Linked DNA regions of Homo sapiens. The protein of the gene in region 2 interacts with the protein of the main gene of each other region in a pairwise test. Each region holds a gene or a part of one and is shown on either strand. Other genes may lie near its edges.

What was found.
Region 1: the proteins of CCNK (region 2) and PRR20B interact in a two-hybrid assay, tested with the Homo sapiens proteins (one large-scale study listed by BioGRID).
Region 3: the proteins of CCNK (region 2) and RFX6 interact in a two-hybrid assay, tested with the Homo sapiens proteins (one large-scale study listed by BioGRID and IntAct).

What each region holds. Positions count from the first base shown.
Region 1 is NC_000013.11:57,145,894-57,149,647, forward strand, and holds the start of PRR20B (proline-rich protein 20B), read left to right. Parts: upstream 1-1,594; 5' UTR 1,595-1,808; intron 1,809-1,962; 5' UTR 1,963-1,981; coding exon 1,982-2,033; intron 2,034-3,054; coding exon 3,055-3,668; 3' UTR 3,669-3,754.
Region 2 is NC_000014.9:99,484,268-99,487,921, reverse strand, and holds part of CCNK (cyclin-K), read right to left. Parts: intron 1,470-3,654; exon of another isoform or gene 1,464-1,469; intron 1-1,463. UniProt on the Homo sapiens protein: Regulatory subunit of cyclin-dependent kinases that mediates activation of target kinases.
Region 3 is NC_000006.12:116,915,089-116,918,742, reverse strand, and holds part of RFX6 (DNA-binding protein RFX6), read right to left. Parts: intron 2,736-3,654; coding exon 2,658-2,735; intron 2,543-2,657; coding exon 2,429-2,542; intron 707-2,428; coding exon 657-706; intron 1-656. UniProt on the Homo sapiens protein: Transcription factor required to direct islet cell differentiation during endocrine pancreas development. Specifically required for the differentiation of 4 of the 5 islet cell types and for the production of insulin.

The DNA.
Region 1 (3,754 bases), on a different chromosome or scaffold from region 2:
ATTCAAAGTGTCAGGGTCATCAAAAACAAGGCAAGTGTGAGAAACCGTCGCAGCCAAGGGGAACCGTGACGAGTTGTAAGGTGGTACCCTGGATGGGGTCTTGGGACAGAAAAGGTATGTGAGGTGAAAGCATAGCAAAACCTCACTTCAACAGGAAATACAACCCAAAAAAATAATTGGCCGGGCATGGTGGCTTGCGCCTGGGGTCCCAGCGACTCGGGAGGTTGAGCGGGACGGACGGCTTGAGCTCAGGCCTTCCAAACAAGCCTGGGCACATAGCGAAACCTCGTCTCTCCAAAAAAATCCGAAAATTATCCCGATGTGGTGGCGCTCACCTGTAGTCCAGCTACTCCGGAGGCCGAGACAGGAGAATCACTTGAACTGATTCTCCTATCTCAGCCCCCCCCCCCCCCCCGCCCCACCCCAAGTAGCCGCAGCGAGCCGAGATGGCACCGCTGCACTCCAGCCTGGGCTACAGAGCGAGAACCCGTCTCTGTAAAAGACACAAGGATGCAAACCAACCAAATAACCCACTGTGGGATCCCCTCCAGCGTCCTGCTGTGTTTCCCGCTGTCTTCCTCCACCCGTGAGTGCACCCACAGCAATAAAAGCCAGCGGTGTGGGTCTCACACGCATCTCCAGCCCCGTCGCCATCGCGCTGAGCTCGACTCTTTTTACAAAAGGCCACTTGACATCCTCACTTGGCAGTTCAAAAGCCCCTTCAACCAGATGTGCGCAAGCCAAGCTCCGCAACTTCCCGTTCAGAGCAGGTTCTCGGTCCACCTCTGCCTGAATGAACCGGCGGGCTACCAAGGCCGCAGTCTCTTCCTCAAGGGCTGTCCACACTGGGTCTCGCTTTCTCTTGGAAATTTCTCTCCCACCAGGGAACTTTCTCCTCCTCTACCTCCCTGAGTCTCAGTCTAACAGCACCCTGCGCCCAACCCCGAGGGCTGCAATAGCCTTCTTGCCTCTCCTGACTTATTCTGCGGACCCTGGGTTGGCGCTCCTTCACAGCCAGGCTGGTCGTTTCTGAAATGTTAACCCGCTGCCGGACACCGTTCCACGGTTTTCCGCTGCCTTGGAACAAGACCAGCTCCTGCGCGGACCCTGCCTCCACCTCGCACCACCTCCGGGCCTGGACTTGGCCTCCCGTCCATTCCCAGAATGTGCCGGGCTCCCTTCCAGTCCGGGCCTCAGCACACTCTCTTCACTCCCCTTCCTCCCTCCCTGCCTCTCCCAACCCGGTTCAGGATGACTAATTTCAAACGTTATGTTCCAGATTTCAGCCCAGATATCCCCGCTTTGGATGCTTTCCTTGACCATGCTCAGATCTAAGCTAATCGCATCTTCCTGTCAGCCGCTTTCAGGGCACCACACCTCATTGTGCTGACACTCAGAGGTCATTATGCAATTTTTTTTCCTCGATGATTAGATTAATCAATCAACCACGGACGTCTAGAAATGGCGGCATCTCAGAAGGGCCCCCATTTGACTGGCAGGGGACTGGCCCAATGCGCCTCGCAAGCCCAGCCAGGCCCGCCCCAGCCGGCCCCCCTCTGACGACGCCTGTCCCTTACGCGACTGCCTTGCTGCCATATAAGAGGGACGGCGCTCGGCCTCCAGCAGTCGGCTTTCTGCTGGGCTCGGAGCCAGAACCTGCTGCGTGCTCCCTCCAGACTCCCTGGCTGCGGGTGGACTACCTCAGAGCTACAGCGGTGAACCTGTGGACACCTCCGACTCCTCGGGCCTCTCTTCGTCGAAGAGTCTCCTAATTTTCAGATCTCCGGAGCCAGCTGTGGGAAGATCAGGTGTGTGTCTGGGGGTCCCGGAGGCGTGGACGGATCTCGGGTGGGTGCAGTTGGGGACAGAATCCTCATTCCCCTAGAAAGGCCACGGCCATCCCCCTGCCTTGTCACCTCTGTCTTCCTAAATCCGTTCTTGCTCTCTTGTTTTTCTCCCCAGCCCCTCCCGCCGATTGCTCATGGAGGAACCAAGGCCTTCGAAGCGACTTCGCTCCATGGCCCCTAATCAAGGTACATCAAACGCCTGCCACTCCTCTCTTTTTAATTTCGTCTGTTCCCCAATTCTTCCCCAATGGTTGACACTCAAACTCAATCAAGCATTCTCTGTTTCACCTTCTCCTAGCCTGCCTCAACCTGGGCTGCTTGTTGGAAGTCAGCTCCCGGGTTCCACATCATCTGGGAAATTCCTTTCCCTCTTCCGAACCGTAATCCCATTTCCCAAATCTGAGATTTGCTGTTGTTGTCGCTGTTTCCTTCTGTTTAGTTTTGTATTACTGTTTCTCCGTAGCAGAGCGAGTCCTCACGCTACGTCTTGATCTATGATAAACCGGTACTTCCACCTTGTTCTTTCCCGGAGGAGTTGGAATTTTCCGGCTGTTGCCACGTTGTTCTCCAAAACATTTCCCTTCATACGCTGAGTGTCCTAAATCTTTTAATCTTGTCTAGTTTGACAGATGCATAACAATAAAGCATCCACTGAAAGGAAATTCTTTAACATCTTGCTTGTCTGAAACATCTTCATTCTCCCCTCCCAGATTCTTCAGCGAAACTTCGGTTGGACAGGAAATTTTAGGTGGGAAATTCATTTCCCTTGAAATTTCGAAGACATTTTCTGTTATGTTCTAGACTGAACTGCTGCTTTTGAGATGTCTGACTTTTGAGACATGTGGAATCCTAGCCCTTTCCATGTGACTTTTCCTTTCTCTGTCTCCCGCTCTCTAGAATCTGTTAGAATCTTCTCTTTTTCCTCAGCACTCTGAAATTTTCTGGTGAAATGTCTCAGCCACAGCATACCTCTAATTCTCTTATATTTCATCCTTCTTTCCATCATTTTAGGTTTTTGCTTTGTTCTGTGGGAGACCTTCTCAACTTCATTCTCCAACTTCCGTGGAGAGTTTTGTTTCTTCTCTCACAATTTTAACTTCAGAAATCCCTCTTTTCTCTGAGTATTTATTTGTAAAAGTATCCTATAACTGCTTGACGGGTGAAGTTCCTTCTGTCTCTCTCTGCTCACGCTCCGCTTCTCTTTTAGCCTCAGGTGGGCCTCCTCCAGAGCCAGGCTGCTGTGTTGCGGACCCTGAAGGCTCCGTGGAAGCAGATGGGCCCGCACAGCCAGCCCAACCCGCAAAACCCATCGCTTACGTGAAACCCTTCAGACGGCAGCCCCCAGCTCGCCCAGAGTCACCCCCTCCTGCAGAGAGAGGCCGGCGCCGGGGAGGAAGCCGGCGGCCAGGGCGAGGCCGTGGCAGAAGGGCTGGGCCCCGCGGGGACGCTGGCCAGAGACAGGGGGCAGAAGGCTTGATGGCACCGGACGTGCACATCCAACTGGACCACCATGGAGAGCCAGGCCACCAGGGGGAACCGGAAATCACGGAGACCGCAGCCTTCTCCCTTTCTGAAACAGGTCCTCCGCCTGGAACTGTGCAGGAAGGCCCTGGCCCCGACGTGGCGCAACCTGAGCTGGGGTTTCAGGAGCCGCCCGCTGCTCCTGGGCCTCAGGCTGTTGACTGGCAACCCGTCTTGACCCTCTATCCCTGCATCGGGTTTAGGGCTCTGGGTGACTCAGCGGTTTTACAAGTCATTCAAACCCCCCAGGGCACCTACGTGCAAGGGGTCCCAGTGTTCCTCACCGACATTGCGTATTGACCACTATCTGCCACCCACGTTGTTCCCAGCCTCCCTTCCTTCCACCTGGACGTTCCCCCCAGCCCCACTTCTGCTCCACTCCTCCC
Region 2 (3,654 bases):
ATCTTCATCAATCCCTCGATAGCCAAGGAATACTTGCTTATGTGTGGGTACTGCTTTCATAAATTACAACACTGTGATTTGAATTATAGCATACAAAAAGAAAAGTGAACTAATTATAAGTGTATGGCTGATTGTTTTTCACAAAGTAAACACACCTGTGTTAACACTATTCAGTTGAGAAAGAGAACAGTACCAACATTCCAGAAGCTCTCTTCGTTCTTTCCTAGTGACTATCCTCCCAAAGATAACTATTCTGACCTCTATTTCCATCAATTTGTTTTGCCTGTTTTTGAAGGACTGTGCGATGACACAGTACCACTTTTACATTTGGTTTCTTCTGCTCAATATTAAGTTCATGGGATTCATTCCTGTTGTTGCATAAAGCAGTATTTGTTCATTCTCACTGCCGCAGAGCAGTGGTTTTTAAACCTGGGACAATTTTGCCCCCCAGGGGACATTTGGCAATGTCTGAAGACACTTCTGGTTTTCCTAACTGGGGGGTTGCCACTGGCATCTAGTGTGGGTAGAGGCCAGGAATGTTGCTGAATGTCCTCAGTGCACAGAACAATCCCCCATGACAAGAAATTATCTGGTCCAACATGTCAATAGTGCCAAAGCTGAGAAAGTCTGCTGTACAGTACAGTTATATCCTATGAATGCAACACACTTTATCTATACATTCTACTGTTTGGGCATGTAAATGTTTCTGGTGTTTGATTATTAATAAGTGTTAAACATGTACATATATTCTTATAGAACAGAAGGCAACTGGACAGTTGGCTGAGGGAATCAATATCTTAGCACATCTTAGCAATTTATTCACAGTTGGGAATTGCTACTTTAATATACATACGCCTAACAGTTTTCCATGTACTTTTTCATTTAAATATTTCCTGAGCATTTACTATGAGCCAGGCCTTAATGGCATGGCAGGGCACAAGATAAGTAAGGTCTTTGCCCCAGGAAGCTTACATTCTAGTGGGAGAGACAATAAGAAAGAAATATATGAATATTTGTCAGGGAATCTTAAGTGCCACAAATAATAACGCATGTAAGGGGAGAGAACATAATGAGGTAAGGGCTGTTTAGAGGTATGCAGAAAGAGGAAGAGTTAGGAGATTATAGTAGCAGTTCAAGTAATGCCTAATACACCTGTCTCCACACAATGGCAGCTGGAACAAGGGGTGTGTGTGTCATAATTGGCCATGAGGCAAAGAATGGAAAAAGATGATTTCAAGTTTGACTGACACAGAGGGTGATACTAAAAAGACAAATGGATAAGACAAGAGAAAAAGCTGGTTTTGATAAGGAGGGAGGAAAAGAATTTGGCTCTATAAATACTAAGCTTGAAGAACTTTAAGATCCTTTTGTGGAAATATCTATCAGACAGATAAATAGGCCAGTTGAAGTCTCTACAGAACATATCTACTTGGGGTTCATCTACACAGAGGTGATAACTATAAAGTCATGTTGACGGATGGAGGGATGGAGAGTGAAGAAGGAAGGGGTCTGGGTACAGAACTCTGTGAACTTGTACCAAGTAGGAAGAATCACCAAAGGCGAGCGTTTGCCCAGTGACAGGAAGGTAAAACAGACTTGAATGCACTTATGATTTACCCACTTGCAGACTAAGAATCACCAAATTAGAGAAAGGGAAAAAGACTGGTCCAAGAAGTAGGGAAATTTGCATCCTTTGTTGCAAAACAAACCATGGGATGTCAGCTTTAAACCAGAGATGGTAGTCAACAGTGACAAATGCTAAAGAAAAGTTAAAGGACAAGGAACTAAGGAAAGTTTACTTTAATTGGTGATTAGTTGTTTATTAGAGACACTGAAAATTGTGATGGTTTCATGACTCTGCAAATACTAAAAACGACTGATTTGTACAGTTTAAATGGGTAATTTGTACGGTATAGGATTATATTTCAAGAAAATACATATATACACATATAAATAAAATAACATTTTTAGAAGTGCAATAGGGCAGAAGGTGTAGAAACTGCAAGGGGTGGTAAAGAATGAACAGACTAGGAAATAGGTTATTCTTTTTTATTCATTTTTTAATTTTTTGAGACAGAGTCTCCCTCTGTCATCCAGGCTGGAATGCAGTGGTGCTCACTGCAACCTCCCGCCTCCAGGGTTCAAGTGATTCTCCTGCCTCAGCCTCCTGAGTAGCTGGGATTACAGGCATAAGCCACCGTGCCTGGCTGGAAATAGGTTATTCTTTTGAGGCATCTGTTCTCAAAGAGAGTAACAGGGAATAGTAGGGAGTAGGTTTTGTTATTGTTTTGGTTTTTATATATTTTTCAGCATAAAGGAGAATGAAAAATGTCTGCAGCCAGTAAAAACAAAAAGGAATCACTAGAGGAGTCAGAACAAGGGAGGCTAACTGGTCAAGGGATAATAAAAAGCACAGCAAGAAAGTTAACCTTAGAAAGAAAGCTCTTTCTTCCCCTGAGAATGGAAGGAAAAGTTTGAGAAAGATATTTTTAAATAATCTTTTAAGGGGGAGGAAGTAACTAAAAAATCTCAAGAGTACCTCCATATTCTCTAGGAAGTATAATGCCAAGATATCTGTTGAGGGGAAAGGGGCAGAACGGGGAACAGTGTTAGGAATACCCCAGTAGGGATGAAACTGGAATGGAAAAGAACCTCGGTCCACAAGCGGATAAATCGTAAGTATATTCAATTGTTTTACCTTCTGTAACTGGCCAAACTCCTGGTCCCTTTAGGTTCCAAGGCAGAATATAAACAATTCATGAAATGTAGTGAAAATATTATGGACATAAACAGAATAGAGACAGTCCTCAAAATCGTAGAACTCCCTGAAAAAGTTTTTGCCTCAGGTCTATAAACCTGTTCCCTATTACTCTTCAATTATTTTTTCACAAGACCCTAAAGTTGTAAGTTTTCTCATTAGTAGCTTGTGATTCCTCTGAAAATGACTGAGATTTATGAACTCTGCAAAATGAAAATCCATAAACAAGCAACCTGTCAAGGCATTTTAGCAGCACCTTTCAGGAATGTGCTTCATAAATATCATTTTACATCATAAAAGACTAAATATATTTTCAACATTTAGAATTATGGAAACAATAGTAAATGTCACCACTCAATTATCTCACCCAATATCGAAATCCCCTCTTAGTAATATTTGGCCACTTATCAATGAAACCTCATTAGTTTACAAAACAGCCTATGGCATTGCTGGGTATCAATAACTGGTGTTCACATAATTCCTGTATTCCTATATTGATTTTTATCTGTCCTGTTCATCCCCTAGATCTGCTACACAGATGGCATAAAATAATGCATGAATGAAATCTACCTTTTAGCGACTCTTTAACTTCTACCAGGGTCCTTAAACTAAGCCTTGAAAATACATTTCCCTTATCTATTGATTGTCTTTCAAACAGGTAAAAGCAATTTTTACATTCTCTTCTCTAGGGTAAACAAATCTAACCATTTTTCTCATCATGATTTTTCTTTTTTTTTAGTGTTTCAAGTCCTCCCTAAATATTAGGAATCAAAACAGATATGATGTGCATAGCACATGGGAGGGGGGTGGTAACTAACATGCAGTAACATGTCCATTGTGTGTCTGCTGCGTTGCAGCATGTCTGCAAGCTAGTTTTCTTATCCTCACAATTTATC
Region 3 (3,654 bases), on a different chromosome or scaffold from region 2:
AAATTTGTTTTACCAAGCAACATCTATTTTTGGAGCACCAACTATGTCCAGTCCTATATGAATTTGTACCCCCAAAATACTAAAATAAATTTTATCATTTCATTAGATTTTGTTTTCAGAGAAAAAGTTGGCTTTTTTTTTTCAGAATTCTATTGTTCTTATATTGAAAAGGTTTTTTTTTTTTGAAAAATCTTCTGGTATTGTTTCAATAAACTATTTGAGATTTTATTCCTTTGTTAAAAGAAGGCAGTAATTTCATCATGCCACTTTCTGATTTTGTAATTAAGACAAAAGTTAATAATAAAATACAATAATTTCTCCTATAGTTTTTATTCTTGTGGTTATTTTCCATTAATTATCTTTTTTATCATACTCCAGCTAGTTTCCATTGAAAAATTTCTCGAAGATCAACAGTGCTTAAATCTATTTTTCACTTTAGCCGCTCTCAAATTAAAGGGATTGAAGGATTGTTTCACCCATTTTGTTTATTGAGGCCCAGCTATAAGACACATCTCTTCCAGCAAATACAAAGGGACAAAAGTAGAAAATAGTCTTCTTGATAAATGAATAAATTACTACCTAATGTTTTCTTCTAATATAATGTATAAAGTTAAATCCTATACTAGGAATGCTCATGTTTTATTAACTGAACATACCTTTCAGGCATTTCTTGCATTGTTGCAGGAATGAGTACATCTGTAAGAACCTTAATCATAGCAAAAGAGGTTAATACAAATCTTTACTTAGTATTTCTATAGAAAGACATATTATTGGTCAACTACTTTTTATTCCTAGCTTCCTAGAGAATAACATGTTAACTCCTTTCTCAAAGTTATAATTTTATCTCCAAAATGAATGTATGTATGAGTTGTGTGTGAGTGTGTATGACAATAAAAACAAGAGATAGCACTGTATATGTACATGCTCAGTATGTTAATTACCAATGGATTGGTCCATGGTAATCATATACCGTTTTATGATGAAAAGCTGACCACTTTCTAGAGGTGGGAGGAAGATTTTTGTAGAAGCTCATCTTACACCGTTCTACTTACAGAGCTCACTGTGCCTCTCTGGGTCCACCATGAGGAGGAGAAACCAGGTTCATTTAAAGATATTTAAAGTCAGGATGTTTATACTAGACTAAAAAAAACAGATCACTTAAAGGGAGAAGTGTGTTTTAAAAGTATTTCTTGGACAAACTGAATGACAGTCCAAAAAGCTTTGGTCTGATGGAAATTTGTGTGCATGAGCCCCAGGTCTTTTCTTATACTCACTCACGGAGCTGCCTCCCCTCCCCTTTTGGGAGCCTTGTCAAGTGTTAAGCATTACAAACAATTAATGCAAATTAAACTGTTTTTCTCTAAATAATGGCATTCATATTCAATCCAGAAAAAAAAAAAAAAACAAGACAATCCTTACTCTCCTCTGAAATTTTTTCAACTTGAACTTGAACTAAAGGCAGAAAATATATTGTACTTTATTCCTCCTTTCTCCTATCCTGTGATGAGGAAGTACTGGACAGAGGATAAAAATATGCACTCTCTTATTCAAGTTGTCTCATTACTTCTTGGTCTGCTTAGGGGCTTCTGGACTTAGTTTATCTATAAATAGCTTTTGCTTTACTTTTCTGCAAAGCTGAGAATCTGATAGTGGCAACTAACTTAGAAGGATTTTATTTCCTAAATGTTTAACAGCGTCCAGCTTGGGTTTTCTTGCCAACTCAGATTATTTTTTAAAAGGAAAGCTTTTGTTTTTCCTTATGGTAAGTTAGAAAGCAAATGTAGGCAAACTCACTTTAAAGTACCCACATTGCAATATAGTTTTATCCATCAGCTTAGAACTTGTAGCCACCAGGGAAGAGACTGTCAAGAATTAGCCTCTTTCTGTCTTCCATTAAATGTTTGCCTAGAAGGACAATCAGTTTGTCCTTATTTAGGATGTCTTCGAGATCCTTCTGCAGACACTTAGGAACTCTGATTTGGTTTGAGAAGAGAATTAGACATTAATGCATTAAAGTTAGAGGTTTTTGAGATTTTCAAGTTATTAATCTCATAAGGGTGCCTAATTCTGCTTTCTGCCAAAACACTGGCATTGTGAAAAAAAATCCACTGTGTTATTTTAATCTGAAAACACCTTAGAGAGTTAATAAAATTTAACTAAGTTTTCACATATTAATAAGTGTGTCACATATAGACTCATTATTAGCTGTAAAAAGAAATTGAGTTTGTTTTACTTAATGTAAACTTCAATTAAAACACATACACTATTAAACGTGCACTATTAAATTGCTTGCTTTCTCATCAAAAAAAAAGACAGTGTATATCCAGCCATAAATAACATATTTACTGAAAATATATTGCAAGAATTTAGATAGAATGCTACGTAAAGAAATAAATGGCTCATGTTTAAGACATCCCAAAGTGCTTACCTTATAAAGAATTGAGTCACAAACACAGAAAATATCAATGATAACAGGATTTTCGAGCAGGGGAAGGAGATGGTCAGGCATTCCTTGCCAAAAGTGTAATAAAAAATGCTGGATCTAGTTGCAGAGTAAAAAGTATGTTAAGATTTTTTTCTTTAACATGAACTCATTAAGAACAGAACATGAAAGTATATATAATAGGGTCAAATAAAGCATTCTTTGTCATTCTTACCTCTTCAAAGTTTCCATTAATTGCATTGTCCAGGATACACTGGCAGTGAGTTTTGTACATCATTATGAGCGTATCAACCTATTTCAAGGAAGAAAAAGCTTAACCAAAGCATCCTTTTAACACTGCCTTTTCTTGTTAATTTGTTCAACACAGATTTTTTAAAAGATCCTATTACGTACCAAGCAGTATGCTCAATGTTGAGGACTCAAAAATTAAGGCAAAATTCTTATTTCAAGGATCTTACTGCCTTGTGAAGGGAGAAAAGCAAACAAATGGACAACTACAGTATAATATGAAAAAGGTAATTTTTCAGAGTACTATGGACCAAAGTAACATCCTAGTTTTATGCCTACTAAAATATTAAATTTTAAAATTTAATTTTTAATTTAAATTTAAATTTTTTAAAATTAATTTTTGGGTAAATAAACATAAAGTAGTAAAAGTAGTAACAAAGATTTGGATAAATAAACATAAAGTAGTAAAATACATCAAATCTTCACACAGTTTTATGAAGTGGATGCTTGGAGCAGTATGGCATAATGGTTTCAAATTTTGTCTCTGGAGTCAGCTCAACTTGGGTGCCCACCTTCACTGCACTACTTACCAGGTATGACTGCAAAAGTGGCTTTGTCTCTGAGCTCCCAAGCTTTTTAAGTAGGTAGTAATAACATATTACTTACATGGTGTTAAGAAAATCAAATAAAATAGGATGTGACACATATGGAACAGTGCCTGGCACCCAGTAAGACCTTACTAAACATTATCCAGAGTTAGTAATAATATCAAATGATGCATTTTCCAAAAAAAAGTTTCAAACATTGAATGTCTATTATGAAAAGTCTCTCTTTTCAAGTTACCATGGATATTTGCATAGCATAGTTTAAAAGTTTTAAATATATTCTAAAATTTGCAATAGGCTAGAACTAGATAATATTCTGGCCACTTAATAACATTCAAACTAAAACTTTTATTTTACATGTTAGAAATTTCCCTACCT